2 linked regions of the Homo sapiens genome follow. The protein of the gene in region 2 interacts with the protein of the main gene of each other region in a biochemical or structural test. Each region holds a gene or a part of one and is shown on either strand. Other genes may lie near its edges.

The links. The genes of interacting proteins can lie anywhere in the genome.
Region 1: the proteins of C4BPA (region 2) and TXN form a complex in vitro, tested with the Homo sapiens proteins (one study listed by BioGRID).

Annotation. Positions count from the first base shown.
Region 1 is NC_000009.12:110,250,005-110,254,340, forward strand, and holds part of TXN (thioredoxin), read right to left. Parts: intron 1,459-4,336; coding exon 1,354-1,458; intron 876-1,353; coding exon 816-875; intron 1-815. UniProt on the Homo sapiens protein: Participates in various redox reactions through the reversible oxidation of its active center dithiol to a disulfide and catalyzes dithiol-disulfide exchange reactions.
Region 2 is NC_000001.11:207,102,093-207,107,877, reverse strand, and holds the start of C4BPA (C4b-binding protein alpha chain precursor), read right to left. Parts: upstream 3,646-5,785; 5' UTR 3,448-3,645; intron 1-3,447. UniProt on the Homo sapiens protein: Controls the classical pathway of complement activation. It binds as a cofactor to C3b/C4b inactivator (C3bINA), which then hydrolyzes the complement fragment C4b.

The DNA.
Region 1 (4,336 bases), on a different chromosome or scaffold from region 2:
AACCCGCTCTCCTAGGTCTGTGGTCATGTGCTAAGCACCCGATCTACACCCACAAGACAGAGCATCCTCCGATGGGTAGTGCTTAAGGTCAAGGGCTGGGAAGCCAGACCACTTCATTTTAAATCCTAGTTCAGCCACATACTCACTGAAACTTCATGAACAACCTCTGTGTTTCAGTTTTCTCATCTATAAAATGGGGATGATAACAGCACTCAGGATTAAATGAACTGATACTTAAAAACCACCCAGAACAGTGCCTGGTATATACCTAGTGCAAAACAAGTATTTGTTAAATACAACCAACCCTGGAATTTCTTCCAAATTATTCTCTCAGGTACCTTGGTGTTTATTTGTTAAAACATTTGTGGTTTCTAATTGACTAAAATCAACCAAGACTAGAATAGGCTTGCAAATGCAGGTTCTCATGCTACTGCAAGTTCACAAAGAGCCCTACAAGCGGTCTCATAATTTGGTGACTCCATCAAGCCTATGGATGTAATGATCATAGCTAAATTCAATCTCCATTTATTGCACATCTCAGAGTGTAAAGTAGAATGTAGGGTTTTAGAAAGGTGGGTGGCCGATAAGATTCAGAAGTCTCACTCATTTATTTTTGTTTACTTTAGGATGTGATATACAGCTCCCGATAGCTAGGATTAAGCTCCTAACTTGCCTGCTCTTCTGAGATAGAACTTTTTAGATAGGATTACAGTTCTAGAATTATTTGACATATTTATGGAAAAAAGCACTGTGCAATTCAGAGAAAAAGGCCAATGTGAAAAGCTCAGCAGTATCTCATATTTCCAGCTACATACCTGACAGTCATCCACATCTACTTCAAGGAATATCACGTTGGAATACTTTTCAGAGAGGGACTGGAAAATTTAAAATGAAAAATCCAAAAAGATTTAGAACTAGGTAATGGCAATCAACATACCCAAGCTTCTTAAATGGAAACTTAATAAAAGTAGAGACTAATTAAAGATCCAAAAATTTAGATCTTTGGAGACATAGATCTAAGAGACATAAATTTTCTCTAAATCAAATTTTTCTTAGTATAAAACAGCTTGGCATATCAAATTCTGAGGCTGGGATTTCAAATAAGGCCCATGTTTCAATGTGGGGAAAAAAAGAACTATTTAAGACAAAATTAACTTCTAAAATTTGTTTTCAATGGGCTACATGTATCAAACCTAAATTATTTGTTATACTACTACTTTTAGACCAAAGATCCAGCCAAAGAAATCCCCCCACCGAAACCAAAATCCTTTAACTGTCTTTCTTTCCTACCACTGTGACCACCAACTCAAAAAACACAAATCTCTTACAAAGCAGACATTGTTTAATACTCACATGAAAGAAAGGCTTGATCATTTTGCAAGGCCCACACCACGTGGCTGAGAAGTCAACTACTACAAGTTTATCACCTGCAGCGTCCAAGGCTTCCTGAAAAGCAGTCTAACAGCAAAAGAAAAGCTTATATTAAATAAATAGTTAAATATTAAACCTTCAAAAGAAAGACTCGACACAATGACACAAAGCACATTCTGGAGGTCCTCCTTTCAGGACCTACTTTTTAGCCAAAAAAAAAAAAAAAAAAAAAAAAAAATCCCCAAACAAGCCAAATAAAACTCAGTTTGAAGAAATTCTATACATTGTTGGTAGTGTTACTTGATAAGATGAAACAAGATATGTGTAGAGTATACTGACATTCTCTTCATAACTATTTTATAAAATATTGTGAACTGGCTATTTTTTCTCTACACCAAACAAAAGGAAAATAAAAATAGACATTTGTATTAAAAATGTTTCCATGTCAAGGCTAGGTATATGGTAGACATTCATTAAACACTTATGGATTATGAAAGGGGTCACTTGAAGTCACAAAGGCATAGGATTTTGCAATTGAAACATCACAAGTTACTTAAAGATAAAAGTTGGCTGGGCATGGTGGCTCACACCTGTAATCTCAGCACTTTGGGAGGCCGAGGTGGGCGGATCACTAGGTCAGGAGTTCGAGACCAGCCTGGCCAATATGGTGAAATGCTGTCTCTACTAAAAATACAGAAACTAGCTGGGCGTGGTGGCATATGCCTGTAGTCCCAGCCACTCAGGAGGCTGAGGCAGGAGAATAGCTTGAACTCAGGAGGCGGAGGTTGCAGTGAGCCAAAATTGTGCCACTGCACTCCATCCTGGGCAATAGACGGAGACTCTGTCGCAAAAAAAAAAAAAAAAAAAAAAGCTATGACTTTTGATTAAACTCATTTGTCTATGGTGGACCATACGAAAATCTAAAATTTTTTGAAAAGTCAAGGAAACTCACCTTTCCCAAACCTCAACACTCAGACATCACCGTTGACATAAGCATAATGGGGTTTCCAGAGCTGAGATCACACGTTTACCAACCTTTGATTTTTGCCCTTTATTTTAAAACTATACCCTTGTCATTCATTAAATGAAAGTTTTCGTTCCTCATGAAGGAAATTTTTCATAGATATTATTTTTCATAAGGAATGCTTGTTAAATAAAATTCTCAGTAGAAATGATCAAGAAATCTCTTACCACTAACTTCCCTGAATTATTTACTATCTAGATACTGTAACCCTGGGAACCGAATATTCTAGTTACCAAGGACTCATTTTTGTTTTGTTTTGTTTTTGAGACGGAGTTTCACTTGTTGCCCAGGCTGGAGTGCAAAGGCCTGATCTCGGCTCACAGTAACCTTTGCCTCCGGGGTTCAAGTGATTCTCTTGCCTCAGCCTCCTGAGTAGCTGGGATTACAAGCCTCTGCCACCAGTCCCAGCTAATTTTTGTATTTTTAGTAGAGACAGAGTTTCGCCATGTTGACCAGGCTGGTCTTGAACTCCTGACCTGAAGTGATCCACCCGCCTTGGCCTCCCAAAACAAAGGACTCATTTTAACCACATTAGTACGTTAGTGCTGACCAAACCCAAAAACCAAACCAGAGCAATTAAGATAAATCAAAACATAAACATCTGTATCTGAAATCTAGGTTTTCTTCAAGGAAACAATGCTGGTCAAATAGGTTTAAAAAAAAATGAACATTCCCCGCCCCCCACCGCCACAAGAGGTCTCGTAAAGAAAGAAATCAAATAAATAAAAAACCATAAGATAAAAAACCAAATAAACAAAAAAAAACCCAACAAGAAAACACTAATATGACCTCATGTACTAATAGTTACTTCTCTAGATTTCTAATTTCTACCTCGTTTTTGGGAAAATAATTCACAAATGGTGTTCCTGAGAAAGGTAGGACAACACTTTCATAAATTTTTTAGTTATGCAAATCCCTGAACCCCACCTCTAGAGGTGGAGACATGGGGAGAGCTGCAGCAGGGTACATAGAAGTATAGCAATTGTTTTTCCAAATCATCACTTATTGTTCCAGATCAATTTCATTCAAAGCCTTCCCTAATGTGATTTTCAAGAAAGTTAAACCAGGCATCCTTTATTGCAAGATCCAGGTAAGACAGGAAAAAAGGTCAAGAAATGCCAATGTCTGGTTGAATAGACATTTTTGTTTTTTTAACATGATTAACCCTTATTAAAAACTTGAGATTACTTTCAAGAGGGAAGGTATTTCAAACATACTCAAGGCTTTTCCAAAACAGTTCTGAATCAAATTTAAGCACAAGTACCTAAAATTCTGAAAAGAGGCACGCAACAATAACTTTTAGCCTAACTGAACATGAGTTACACCCCACGTATGTGCAGGCTTCATGTACAAATTCTCTTCTGATACTTCTAAACGGGTATCAGCTTGAAAATTATTCAAGATTGTATTACTAAGAAGAAATCACAATTTCTAGCTCCCAGAAACTAACAGGATTAATAAATGTCTCCATCACTGACACCAATAATCTGGGGGAAGCAGAACAGTGTAGTTGGGGTAAATAGGAGCAAGAGTCTAAGATCTCGTTGCCTCAACATACCTACTCTGAGGGTAATAAGTGTGAGTGGTTTCTGAAGTACTTAGCCAAGTGCCTTGTAGATGGGAGTTCAATAAATGGTAGGTGTCATTTTTTTTAAAAGTGTTTATTTCTTCCTCATCACATTTACAGTCAATTATTCCATTCCTCTCTGAAATAGATCCCAGTTGGCCCTAAAGCACCAACAGAGTACCTCAGAAACAGAATTGTTCTGAATGGCAAATGGTGCAAATTTAGCCCATTAGGATGAAAATGTAACATGTATTCAACATTTACAAATAACAGGCTGGGCGTGGTGGTTCACGCCTGTAATCCTAGCACTTTGGGAGCCTGAGGTTGGTGGATCACCTGAAGTCAGGAGTTCGAGACAAACCTGACCAACATGG
Region 2 (5,785 bases):
TGGTCATAGCAGCTGCACCAGAATCTGCCACTCTCTCCAACACTCCACTTCCATAGTCCAGGTTTAGGTTCCTATAATTCCCTTCCCCTCACCCTAGACCACTGCAAAAGCCTTCAAACATTTATAAGCCAGCTTCCATGTTGATGCCATTATGTCCCTAAAAAGCAATTTATGTGTTGTTACTCTGCTTAAAAACATTCATGGTTCCCAGTTTCCATAGGTTCCCCTATCTGTCCCAGTTTTCCCATCATTTCTCACTTAGAACACCATGCTTCAGTCTCAAGGAGGCACTTACCCTTCCCCAAAAACATTCTGGATTTCTTTTTTGAGACAGGGTCTCACTCTGTGTCACCCAAGCTGGAGTGAAGTGGTGCAATCACAGCTCACTGCAGCCTCAACCTCCTGGACTCGAATGATGCTCCCACCTCAGTCTCCCCAGTAGCTGGGACCACAGGAGCGTGCCATCACACCCAGCTAATTTTTTAATTTTTTGTAAAGACAGGGGTCTCACTATGTTGCTCAAGCTGGTCTTGAACTCCTGGCCTCAAGTGAACCTCCCACCTCGGCCTCCCAAAGTGCTGGAATTATAGGCGTGAGCCACCATACAAAGCCAGGATTTTTTTAAAAAACACCTGCAAGCATTTGCAGTTAATGTCTCCCATGCATTAATGCTCTTACCTCCAACTTCTCCTTTACTCACTATTCCTTTACTCACTATTCAGATCAAATGTCACCTCCTTGGTGAAGCATTGCCTGACTTCATCATGAAATGCCAGTGTTTTCTGTTCTTCTAGTACTTGGCTAATACCTTAATTGTAGCATTGTTTTGTATCCTAACTATCTATTTGCTTTTGCCTCCCGAAATACATTGTGAATTCCTTGAAGACAAGGAAGGTGTTTATTCAACTTTCCATCTCTAACGTGGTATTGTAATTGGTCTATATAACCCCGTGACTCCTTTGTTAAAAAAAAACATTTGCAAGGTCAGTTTTATCACGCAGATTATCATCTGCTTTTTTGCAGATGCAGAGGAAGAGAAAAGAGTTCCTCCTTATTTCGCAGAGATTTCTTTCACTGCCTTTAGAAAGACCTAATTTGAGCACCAGAATTTAACTAGCTTAAAACTTACACAGAGGAGGCCGGGTGCAGTGGCTCACGCCTGTAATCCCAGCACTTTGGGAGGCCAAGGCAGGCAGATCACGAGGTCAGGAAGTCGAGACCATCCTGGCTAACACGGTGAAACCCTGTCTCTACTAAAAAGACAAAAAATTAGCTGGGCGTGGTGGCGGGCGCCTGTAGTCCCAGCTACTCGGGAGGCTGAGGCAGGAGAATGGCCTGTGAACCCGGGAGACGGAGCTTGCAGTGAGCAGAGATTGCACCACCGCACTCCAGTCTGGGCAACAAAGCGAGACTCCGTTTCAAAAAAAAAAAAAAAACTTACACGGAGGAAGGAATAAGACAGAATAAACAATAATAAATCTAAAAGGAATGAAAGTCAATTTAATTTTATCTTTAGAATGAGAATGACTGTCTCACTGAGGACCAAATGAAATAATGTGTGTGAAATGCTTTGTCAGTTTTGAAGAGAGATAATACAGTGACTAGACTTCCCTAACAAACCATCAGGATGCATCCTAACTCTTCTCCAACTACGGCATTTGCAGTTCACCATAACTACTCCTGGTGGTCCCTCAGCAGAAACCAGCTGGCCACAGAGTATGGGAATGGAGGCTAGAACTTGCGAGCTGAGAAGACACAAGTTGGAGTTCCAGCAATACCACAGTCTAAGTCTGTGATCTTGAAGAAGCTATATCAGCTTCTTGGATATCAGTTCCCTCCATCTCTAAAATAATGACATTAAACCTAGATGAACAAATTCTGCAATTCTGTAACTGCTCACTGAAAAGCTGAGACTACTCTAGCCAACTTTCATATTTCAAGGACTTCACCTTTTAAATTCCTGCAGAAATGGAACCAACTCAAGAACTTTAGTCAGCATGGCGGGTCCCTTGTGAAAAATAATATCAGCACTTAGCAATGCAGTGCAATTTGAGAGTCACTGGAAAAATCTTTAGTCCTCAAATTTCTCCTTCCATGAGAAGTTACTTTTTAAGTTAATATTTATTTTGTCTAACTTCCCCCTTTTAAAATGCAGATACCTTGTGAAAGGATAGTATTTTTCTCCAGTCTCGGGCTGAGTGTCTTCTTCCTTATACCTGGGCTCTCAATTATATCACTTACAAACTCCAGAAAGAACTGGCTCCCACACTTTCCCCACCCTTCCTAGAATCTCTTTTTTTTTTCTTTTTTTTTTTTTTTTGAGGTGGAGTTTCACTCTTGTTGCCCAGACTAGAGTGCAATGGCACGATCTCAGCTCACCCCAACCTCTGCCTCCCTGGTTCAAATGATCCTCCTGCCTCAGCCTCCCAAGTAGCTGGGATTACAGACATGTGCCACCATGCCTGGCTAATTTTGTAATTTTAGTAGAGACAGGGGTTCTCCATGTTGGTCAGGCTGGTCTCGAACTCCCGACCTCAGGTGATCCGCCAGCCTCGGCCTCCCAAAGTGCTGGGATTACAGGAGTGAGCCACCGTACCTGGCCAAATCTCTTTATTTTTCTATCAGCCCCTTTATTCTGTGCTCATACTACATTCAAACATATCTCTAAGCTTAATGCCAACCTTCTTTGATGCTTCTGCCTCTTCTGTAGTCTACTTTTTATTCTTTTGGTGTTACCATATTTAGAGATAGAATAGGAATCAGCAAAGAGACAAGTGGTTGAAGAATTAAAATGAGGACCAGAATGGTACTGTATCCTGGCCAACCAAGGAAGAAGAGAATTTCAAGAAGGAAGGGTTATCAGCATCGTCAAATTCAGAAAGTAAAGAAGATGAGGACGACTAAGACTGCTAGCTTCAGAAACCAACTGGAGGCTGGCCAGTGTCCTCCTTATTACCAAATCTAAACATCTTTGCTGTCAGTGGTGGAGGAGATTTGGAGTGGTTAATCAAATCTCAAAATAGAAATGGCCCCAGTTTTCAGAATGTAGACTAAGAAAAGCAAGCTTCCTGTGAACCCTTTGAAAAGTCTGATTGACCCCTTGCCTCAACTCTGATGTGGGAAGGTGGTGAAAGATCAACAAACCAACACATCTGTCTTTTAGATACAGTAACAAGAGCAACACCTTACACCTCTTCTTCTTTAGCTTATTTTATTAGAATGCAATATTATTCCTCCATTTATAATTTTTAAAACTTGAGGTTCAGATAGGGTTTAAAGTACGTCTCAAGTCTTACATCCCCCTAATACAGTGCTCCTGAAAAGATTTCTGCTGAAAACACCTCCAAGCTTTTGTCTCTGTTTTATCCTTCTAATCCTGCACTCCTTAAAGGGCCAAACCACCAGCCTTTCCTCCAAGCTTCCCCAAGGGTTTAGTAGTCCACCGACCTTTGGTAGTTGAGGAAGAGCAGAAGACTCTATGATGATATCTGGGATAGTTTCTCAAAGAAGAAAACTGCCTTGATCTATGTAGTCCTGGTTCCTCCCCAGATCAGAGTTTATCATAATACCCTGAAGTTGACTGGTAATTGCTCCACCAAAGAGTCCCTGAATTTCAGCCATGTGGTTGGCTGGTCAAGGACGGTTGATGGAAATAGATGGGCAGAAACTTTTGACGGGCCCAATGAATGATTAACAGCAGAAATAAAGCAGCACTGTTTACCTAAGCTCCTTCCTCTTTGCTAGTCCTCATTCTTCGTAACATGTCGCAATCGTTTATTTTCTCCTCTGCCAACCATTTCCCCTAAGTGGAAAGGTAATTTGAATTTGAAGCCAGAATTCTTTTTTCTTTTCATAAACACATAAGGGTTATGGCAAGACACAGTCCAGCTAGCCTGGAAACCTTGGATACTGCGAGGTTCAGAGAGCCTCCGCAAAAATGATCCACTTTCCATGACACTAGGTCCAGTATGCTTTCCTGGAGTTTGAAAACTGATATTCTTGCCCAGAGCTCGTCTCTATCCCACCCCAAGGAATTACAAAAGGTGGGGAATTTATCAAACATGCATTGGGTTTCCACTATGTGCTGAGTTATCTAGAACGTATTTGGAGTTCAGCAAATGTTAACTGCTACTACATGTCAGGCACCAGAGGGCCTCCAAAAATTGATCTATCCAGTGCGCTCAGAAGAACGCAATGAAGGACCGGCCATGTTTCCTCTCGCATAGATCTAAAAAGACCACAAGCACTTACATAGTCCAATTAAGCTACTAATCCTCAAGGTTAAGATTTGTGTGCTCAGAAGATTGCTATTAAAAGGCAATTCTTTCTGAGAACTTCACTTTTTCTGTAATAAATACTGAAAGTCCCAGAAGAGTTTCAGAAAAGGAACTAAACTACAACAGGTTGAGTTAATCAAGGAAGTTTCTACAGAAGATGTGAGATTTGGATAAAAGGTAGAAATTATTAGATAAAAGTGGTAAGGATATTAGATGTAAAGAAACCATGCGCTAGGTCACCAAGGTGAGACACTGATTTGACCAGAATGAAGATAGAGGAGGATTCCAGATTGCACAGTCTTGAGACTAAATTGGAAGAAATATCACCTTTAAAGCTGCTATTTCTTTAAAGTACCGTTTTCCAATGTATTGAAGTCCTTTCGTTTACTTTCCACAGTGACTCTTGCAGATTTTTCTCTCCAGGTCACCAAATTGTCACATTCCCTCTCAGCAGATGCTCTTACCTCCTACTTTACTAAAAATCATTCTACCTTAGCTTCATCAATGTCAAATTTTCCCTCCTATTCACTCCTCATTCCGAGGAGAATTGTTTCTTCTTTTCCTGCCTCATTTTCAATGCATCTCTCATCCTGAAATGTCCCTTCAATTTTGCCAATACCTCAAATTCCACCTTTCTTCTTTAGTGTGATGCTGAACTTCTCAAAGGTGTGACTTGTTCTACCTGCCTGTTCTTTCTCATTCATCACTCCACCTGTTGCTTTCCCATCTGGCTTCTACCACTCTTCTACTGACATGTCTCTCTGAGGCACGCCCTTAGGTCCAAGTCCAAAATATCTTTAATTCATTTCTTAGGATCTGTCTGCAGCCTTTGTCACTGCTGATCATTTCCTTTCTGAAACTCTCTTCTCCTTTGGCTTCCATGACACTAAACTTACCTGATTCCCTTAACTTAACTAATTTCTCTTTCTTAGTTACTGTTACCTTCTCTTCCTCCTTCTCATTCCTAAATATAGATATATCTCAGGCTCTTCTTTTTTTAAAAAAATTATCTTCGCAATTTTAATGATCTTGCCTTCTGTCACAGCTTTAACTATTACCAGTAAGAAGACTAGCCAGCACTACATTATTATTTCTGATTACTCTCCGAAACTCAAGACTTACTTTCTTAGGTTTTGTTTTTTTTTTCCCCCCACTGGACATCTTGCAAGCACTTCACCCTCAGCACATCCAAAGAGGAATTTCTCATTTCCGGCCAACAAGCTTCACTTTCTGACCCCAGCTTTTTCTGACCTCTGGTTCTCGGGAATAAAATTTCAGATTCACTTTTGAACTCTTCCTCTCCCTCACCCTTCAATGTTTGATTAGTTGACAGGTTGTTTTGATACAAGTTTTCAATATCTCTCGTGTCTGCTGCTGCTTTTTCATTTCTGCTGCCACCAAACCAGTTCAGGTTGATAATGCCTCCCATATGGACTATTGTAGGAGTCCTTTCGTTGGTTTCTCTTAGTTCTTTTCCCTCATCAACCAATACTACAACCAACATTGTG